2 linked regions of the Homo sapiens genome follow. The protein of the gene in region 1 purifies or fractionates together with the protein of each later gene. This does not show direct contact. Each region holds a gene or a part of one and is shown in the gene's direction. Other genes may lie near its edges.

What was found. The genes of interacting proteins can lie anywhere in the genome.
Region 2: the proteins of NOP14 (region 1) and MACROH2A2 purify together in Homo sapiens (co-immunoprecipitation; one large-scale study listed by IntAct). This does not show direct contact.

What each region holds. Positions count from the first base shown.
Region 1 is NC_000004.12:2,942,682-2,946,528, reverse strand, and holds part of NOP14 (nucleolar protein 14), read left to right. Parts: coding exon 1-117; intron 118-1,299; coding exon 1,300-1,401; intron 1,402-2,302; coding exon 2,303-2,456; intron 2,457-3,847. UniProt on the Homo sapiens protein: Involved in nucleolar processing of pre-18S ribosomal RNA. Has a role in the nuclear export of 40S pre-ribosomal subunit to the cytoplasm.
Region 2 is NC_000010.11:70,104,757-70,108,603, forward strand, and holds part of MACROH2A2 (core histone macro-H2A.2), read left to right. Parts: intron 1-3,847. UniProt on the Homo sapiens protein: Variant histone H2A which replaces conventional H2A in a subset of nucleosomes where it represses transcription. Nucleosomes wrap and compact DNA into chromatin, limiting DNA accessibility to the cellular machineries which require DNA as a template.

The sequences.
Region 1 (3,847 bases):
CAGATGTTTCCTGAATCTGCAAGTGACGCTATCAAATTTGTTCTCCGAGATGCGATGCATGAGATGGAAGAAATGATTGAGACCAAAGGCCGGGCGGCATTGCCAGGGTTGGATGTGGTAAGCAGAGTTCAGTCTAGGCACTGCCCCTGCCACAGAAGTTCTGTTTGGCATCACAGAAGGTGGACGACGGGTACGATGCTCTTGGCTGTACCCTGTGCTTCCAGGGTGATGTGGAGTGAGCTGCACGGCAGCGAGGGTGATCTGGAGTGAGAGTGCACGGCAGTGAGGGTGATCTGGAGTGAGAGTGCACGGCAGTGAGGGTGATCTGGAGAGTGCACGGCAGTGAGGGTGATCTGGAGAGTGCACGGCAGTGAGGGTGATCTGGAGTGAGTGCACGGCAGCGAGGGTGATCTGGAGTGAGAGTGCACGGCAGTGAGGGTGATCTGGAGTGAGAGTGCACGGCAGTGAGGGTGATCTGGAGTGAGAGTGCACGGCAGTGAGGGTGATCTGGAGTGAGAGTGCACGGCAGTGAGGGTGATCTGGAGTGAGAGTGCACGGCAGTGAGGGTGATCTGGAGTGAGAGTGCACGGCAGTGAGGGTGATCTGGAGTGAGAGTGCACGGCAGCGAGCCTGGGAGGGGAGGGCACTCCTCCACTAGCCATGGACTAACGTGTGGGTCGTGCAGGGAGATTCTGGTTTGATTCCACGTGAATGGTGCTGTATTTGGTCCAGTGACAAAAACATTGGAAGGCAAATAGAACCACGGTATTGTCCTTAAGGGCCCAAGCCTGTGGGCTGGTTTAAATTGGTCTCGGTTTCTATGTTATTCAAAGGTTGGGAGACATTTGTACGCTGAGATTTTTAACAATTTTATAACAGCCTCATGCTGTATTTTCAGCTTTAGTAACTTTAAGGAAATACTTGCTGAGATACGCTCTTTATTCTGTTGCCTGGTGTTTGTGTTGAAATGGATTCACAATAGTTAGCAGAAGCTTAAAAATGTAGGACTTAGGTTAGTGATTTTTAATCAACTCCCCAAAACATGATCTGAGCCCGTGTCTATAACCATTGTTGACTGCTTTGAAGTCTTCATGGGCCTCAGTGTCCTCACTGCACGTTTAGCTGGTTGACCCACGGTGGTTGGACGCCTGTTCTGTGACACTGAGGCCAGAGCTCTGGGCCAAGGAGATGCACCCTCTCCTCGCCAGATCCTGTTCTTGGCTCCGGAGTGTTTGCGGGGAGGGCATATGGATGGACTTCATTTACCTTCTTTAACCTGTGGTAACACTTTCTTTCCAGCTCATTTATTTGAAAATCACTGGGCTGCTATTTCCAACTTCCGACTTCTGGCACCCAGTGGTGACCCCTGCCCTCGTGTGCCTCAGTCAGCTGCTCACCAAGGTGCGTTCTCTCCACATGCGGCAGGGGTCGGCCTGCTGCACCACGGGTGGCCGGAGCCACAGCCCCTCGGGGCCTTGTGGAACATGAGTGTGGCTGTTTAAGGGCTGCAGAGACCGAGCACTGCGGTTAGGCCAAAGAGGGCCCATCTAAAAGAGCCCCGGCTCGAGCAGCCCCAGATGTGGGTGGGAGTGGGAGGGCCTGGTTTGGCACCTCAAGGTTACAGATGGTGCTACCCCAGAAAACAACCTTTCAAGTTAGTGGTGAAGTTATCCAGTGTGATGATAAGGGCTTTTGTTCCCTTTTTGGCTTAAAAAGTTCAAGCTGTTCCTTTTTCTTTATTAGGCATGTGATTGGTACATGCTTAGTGCAGTAATCGTACGCTCTGTATGGGTGGAAGGAACTTTATAATCAGTATAGCTCTGGCCAGGCGCGGTGGCTCACGCCTGTAATCCCAGCACTTTCGGAGGCTGAGGCGGGCGGATCACCTGAGGTCGGGAGTTCAAGACCAGTGTGGCCAACATGGCGAAACCCCGTCTCTACTAAAAATACAAAAATTAGCTGGGTGTGGTGCCACATGCCTGTAATCCCAGCTACTCGGGAGACTGAGGCAGGAAAATCACTTGAACCCGGGAGGTGGAGGTTGCAGTGAGCCGAGATTGTGCCATTGCACTCCAGCCTGGGTGGTAAGAGTGAAACTCCGTCTCGGGAAAAAAAAATCACTAAAGCTCTTTATCTTGTTTTCATCTCATTTGATGCTCTCGACACTGCTATAAGGTGCGGGGGTTCCCTCTGTACTTGTGAAGCTCAGTGGGGTGCGTGGTTCATCAGGGAAGCCCGGTGGTCGGCCTAGCATGGCATGACATCGTCCCAGGACAGTAACCCCCCATATGTTCCTTTCCAGTGCCCCATCCTGTCCCTCCAGGACGTGGTGAAGGGCCTGTTCGTGTGCTGCCTGTTCCTGGAGTATGTGGCTTTGTCCCAGAGGTTTATACCTGAGCTTATTAATTTTCTTCTTGGGATTCTTTACATAGCAACTCCAAACAAAGCAAGCCAAGGTGAGTTGATTTGAGGGAGGTTCCTACAAATATGTTATACTTTAGAATTTTTTTAAGTAGTTCATACTCATTGTAGAAAGTTTAGAATATGCGAAAGTAGAGGAAACACACAACCTGCCACCCGCCGCACTGTCTGTCCCTCTGTGTGAGCGTGTGCACGCGCCACATGGGGAAAAGCAGTGCTACCGGTGACCTGTGCTGTCCAGCGTGGTTGCCAGGGGCCAGAGTCTGAACTGAGACGTACCCTACCTGTGACATATGCCCAAGTGGCGAAGACTTAGTGTCAGAAATACTTAAAATATCTTAATTTTTTGTATTATGTGTTAAAATCATAATATTTTGGTATTTGGGGTTAGATAAGGTCTATTGTTAAAATCAATCTTAACTTTTTACTTTTTCTCACGTGACGACAAGGCAGTGTGAAAGTTCTCGTGCAGCTCACACAGGCCGCGCTGCTGTGTCGCTTCTCTTAACGCTCTGAATTCAGGAGCGAGGGCGGCAAGAGCAGTGTTGGGATGAGGAGCAGTCTGCACACTGGCTGCCCTCCTGGGCCCTCACCCCAGCCCCTGTGCTCCTCCCCCTTCCCCTGATGCCAGCCCTGCTCCTGGATGCTTCCTCAGCACTTGCTGCTTCCCTCTGGGGGGTGAGGAGCTGCACAGCCTCTTCCTGAGCTCTTCCATGTCTGTGGACGCCTCTCCCAGCCTGACCAGAGGTTGGACCTCAAGGCTCAGACCCCTGTCCTCTATTTCCAGCTCACCGTGCAGTGCTAAGCGCCTGCATGTCCAGGGGACTGACCTGAGGAGCAGGTGCTGTGGCATCATTCACACCACCAGCAGAGTCCCTTCCAAGAGGGGTCTGGCCCACTCTTCCGGTTCAGTGCTCCCATTCTGCCACCACCTGCCTCCCAAGGCTCCTGTCTGTCAGGCTCGGTGCTGGGCGCCAGAGGGGCGCGGCCGCCCACATGCTCCCTGCCTCCGGGAGAGCCACCTGTAGATAGCTGCAGTCCCACGTGTGAAGGGCTGTGACGGAACAGGCTGGGCACAGGTGGAGTCAAGGAAGGGGTGGGCATCTCGGCTTTGGGGAAGTGTGGGGCGGGGCCTGACCCACGCCTTCCCCTCTCGCTTGGCCCGGCACCTCTGCCCCACTGTACCCACTCTCCACCCCTCCCCGTGTAGCCACACCCTCGGCCTGGATTGCCCTTCTCCGTGGCGAGTGAATTGACTCCTGCGTCCTACAGGCCTTTGCTGACGTCTGCCCCTCAGGCCTCTCCCGCCCTCCACCGTCACCCCCGACTGACTCTCCTGTCTCCCTCCTGCCCCTCCACTTTCCTTTCTCGTGTTCTGTCTGGTCCATTTGCTCCTCTGGGTGCTGTGCACTGCCTGTCTCCCCGA
Region 2 (3,847 bases), on another chromosome or scaffold:
GGCAGAGAAGAGAGTGAGACATAGCCTTAGTTTGGTAGTGTCCCCAGGTGACATAGAAGGAAATGTAATTTCTTTCTGGAAGAACTCAGCTCCAGGCTGACAGCAGTTCTAAGATGCTTCCTGATTTCAACAATATTAAAATATTTAAACAAAAAAAAAGTGCATCTTAACATGGTTAAAACAGACCAACTGCAGTGCAGGCCCACCCTGTGGCAGGGGGTCGGGGAGGGTGGATCAAGAAAATATTTCAGGTGCAGAGTCAGTGAGAGGCAGCGATGCTGCATGTTCAGGGAGGCAGAAGCTGGAGCTAAGGTAAGTCCAGGGTTTCCAGGGCTGAGCAAACTGATGAAAAGTCAGGACTTTCATTCATTTGTTGAATATTGGAGCACCTGCCTGCCAGTGACTGTGGCAGGAGCCAGGCAGCAGCAAGGAATACAAAAGTGCTTCAGTGAAGATGTCAGCTGGGGCAGAACCAGTTCACGTTAAGCATCTACGGTGTGTGCTGTCGGGCGCAGGCATCAGGATGTGGATGTGATTGTAGGCCCTGAACACTCCTGAATTTTACAACCAGGCGGGGACCCCAGGGTAACACAGTACATCACTTAGCACAGCTGGCTGCTGAATTGCATGGCAGAGGCCCGGAGAGAATGGGCGAGGGAGTCAGGGACAAAGGAGGATAGCCAAGTGTGGAGACAGAGGTGCAGCCAGACCCATGTGTGCAGGGGACTGAGCCCACTGGCTGGAGGACGACTGGGCATCCAGAAAGAGCAAGAAATGGATAGACTCCAAGGGGAGAGGGGCCGACCATGAAGGGAGCCTGGGAGGACTGCAGTAAGGCCAGGGGGCAATCAGGAGCAGTTGCAGATTCTGAGTTTAAATGTGGAGTTTAAGGACCTTGGCTCCAGCAACCGTGTGGAGGATGGTTTGGCAGACAGAGGGCTGGGGCCCGAAGACCATCAAGAAAGCTGTATTGGATGAGGGTGGGGGTGGAGTGGGGGTGAAAATGAAGCACATGGGCCTGAAATGAGACAAGGCAGAGGAAACTGATGGTGTCTGCAGTGACAAAGAGGGAAAAAGGGGAATCGGGTTTCAGGAGTGAATGGCCATTTTACTGGGCACGTGTTAGCCCTGGGGCCCCAGAAAGGTCATGAGGTGCAGGTCCCTGTTGAAAGCTAAGGAGGAAAATGGCTTGCAGATGGCTGCTTAGGAGGTGGGGCTGCAGCAGAGAGAAGAGCACTGGGCCCAGACACGCAGGAAGAAGAGAGGCCATTGTGGGAAACTGAGGTGCTGTTAAAAGAAAACCCACAGTGTCACGGAAACCAGGCATCAGCAGTAGCAGCCTCTCAGCAGGACAAGGGGCCAACCTAGAGTCCCCTTTTGCTGTGGTGACTCCCAAGAACTGTGATGGCTCACCTGGGGGAAGGTTCTAGAAGCTCCCAGCAGCAGCACTGCCACCCTCAGAATGCAGGTCTTCACCAGGCAACATCACATTAGGTAAGAGAATGCCCCTAGTCATTATGTGGATAGGTGCTTATACCAAATACCAGGGTCACAGCCCTTGCAATAACTTGACCCTCATCCTTGACAACTCTGGAGAACATTACAAAGCATTATGGCTACAAGCTGTGTTATTCATTTCCAGTTGCCATGAACATACTTTGTTTTGGACTGAAATGTCATCGTGCACTACCCTGAAAGTCATTTTTTACTTGATTGGATGTTTGACATTGCCAATAGGAACATATTCCTTTTATTTAAAAATGACTTTTGGCTGGGTGCAGTATAATCCTAGCACTTTGGGAGGCCGAGGTGGGTGGATCACTTGAGGTCAGGAGTTCAAGACCAACCTGGCCAACATGGTGAAACCCCATCTCTACTAAAAATACAAAAAATTAGCCGGGCATGGTGGCGGGTGCCTGTAATCCCAGCCACTTGGGAAGCTGAGGCAGGAGAATCGAATCGCTTGAACCCGAGAGGCAGAGGTTGCAGTGAGCTGTGATCGAGCCACTGCACTCCAGCCTGGGCAACAGAGGGGCATCCTGTCTCAAAAAAAAAAAAAAAAAAAAGACTTTACATTAGAGGAATACCATTCTGCTAGTAACATGATTATACTTTTAAAATATATGAAATAAATCAGCCATGACTGTAACAAGCCAAACTCTGTCCGGCATACAATAGCAGCCAGGTGCTCGGGAAGATGGCACCATGCAGGCAAGGCCCATCTCCAGGGTCCTTGGTTCTCAGCAGAGCAGCCTCCAGTTTTAGGGGCATCATTGTTCAGTCCAAAGAGGGACACTCTGCTTCTGGTGCACAAATATACGTGGTCGTAGAGTCAGCACGCATGGCGGGCCCCTACCCAGGGCCTCGGTGTATTGTGTGGCCTGGGTCCTGCACTCAGGCGTTCACGTGTGATGACACTGAGCCCCGTCTAGGCACTGGAAGGCAGGGAGCCTACAGCCTCCCCTGATGGACGAAGGGGTCCCTTGGATTTGGCTTCTACCCATGTGAGGAAGTGCAGTCAGCACTTCCCTGACACTGTGGACATTGCCAGGAAATACTTATATAAACTAGGTGGGCATCATAGATTTCCAGTCAGTCTTTCACCTCAACCCCACACACAGCTCTGGAATACGGCGGACACACGTTTCTGTTACAAGTGCTGCCCCTAGTGGCCACGGACCCTTGCTACGCCGATTCCTGGGTTCCTGGAGGGGCACAGGGCGCAGACGGGCAGCGTGGGGGCAAGCATGGCTCATGGCTGAAGCTGCAGCTGCCTCAGGCAGATCCGAGGGAACTGCTCCCCTGGGGAGTCCCACAGGGACTTCCCTCGAGCTTAGCAGCCACGGGGCTTTATCAACTCTGTCACCAATGGGAACCACATTTAGGGGAGTAAACAGTAAAACAAAGGAGTATGACAGAAATTGTGAGACAAGGCTGGCCTAATTCAGTTTCACAGCCCGCTTTTGAAACCCCACTCTCTGCAGGGCATGTGGAGATCATCAAATGGCAGTCCCTGTCAAGGAACTACACAATCAAGTTCAGTGGTTCTCAACTCATAGAAGGTCCTAAAATCACATAAGCATAAGCCCCTGCACCAGACCTACTGAGTCAGGACCTCTGGGTGGTCAGTACCCTGACTCTGTGGGGCCCAGGCACAGCTATTTTTTAAAAGCCACAGTAGGCCAGGTGTGATGGCTCACGCCTGTAATCCCAGCACTTTGGGTGCCTGAGGCAAGAGGATCACTTGAGCCCTGGAGTTCAAGACCAGTCTGGGCAACATAGCAAAACCTCATCTCTATAAAAAAATTTTAAAAATTAGCACATGCCTGTAATCCCAGCTACTCGAGAGGCTGAGGCACTAGAATCACTTGAACCCAGGAGGTGGAGGTTGCAGCGAGCTGAGATCGCACCACTGCACTCCAGCCTGGGCGACAGAAAAAGACTCTGTCTCAAAAAAAAACTAAAAATAAAAAAATAAAAATAAAAGCCACTGTATTCATTTCCTGTGGCTACTGTAACAAATTACCACAAAGTTCGTGGCTTCAGACAACACAAATTTGTCTTCTTACAGTTCTGGAGGCCAGAAGTCCACAATGAGTTTTAAGAGTCTAAGATCCAGGTGTTGGCAGGGCTGGTTCCTTCTGGAGGCTCAGGGAAGGATCCCTTCCTTGCCTTTTCCAGCTTCTAAGCTGCAACATTCCTTGGCTCCTGGCTGCATCGTTCCAATCTCTGTCTCCTTCATCCCACGGCCTTCTCCTGCCTTTGACCTTCTTGCCTCCCTCTTATCAGGTCCCAGGCTCACCCAGACAGTCCAGGATCATCTCCCCATCTCAAGAGCCTTCACTTA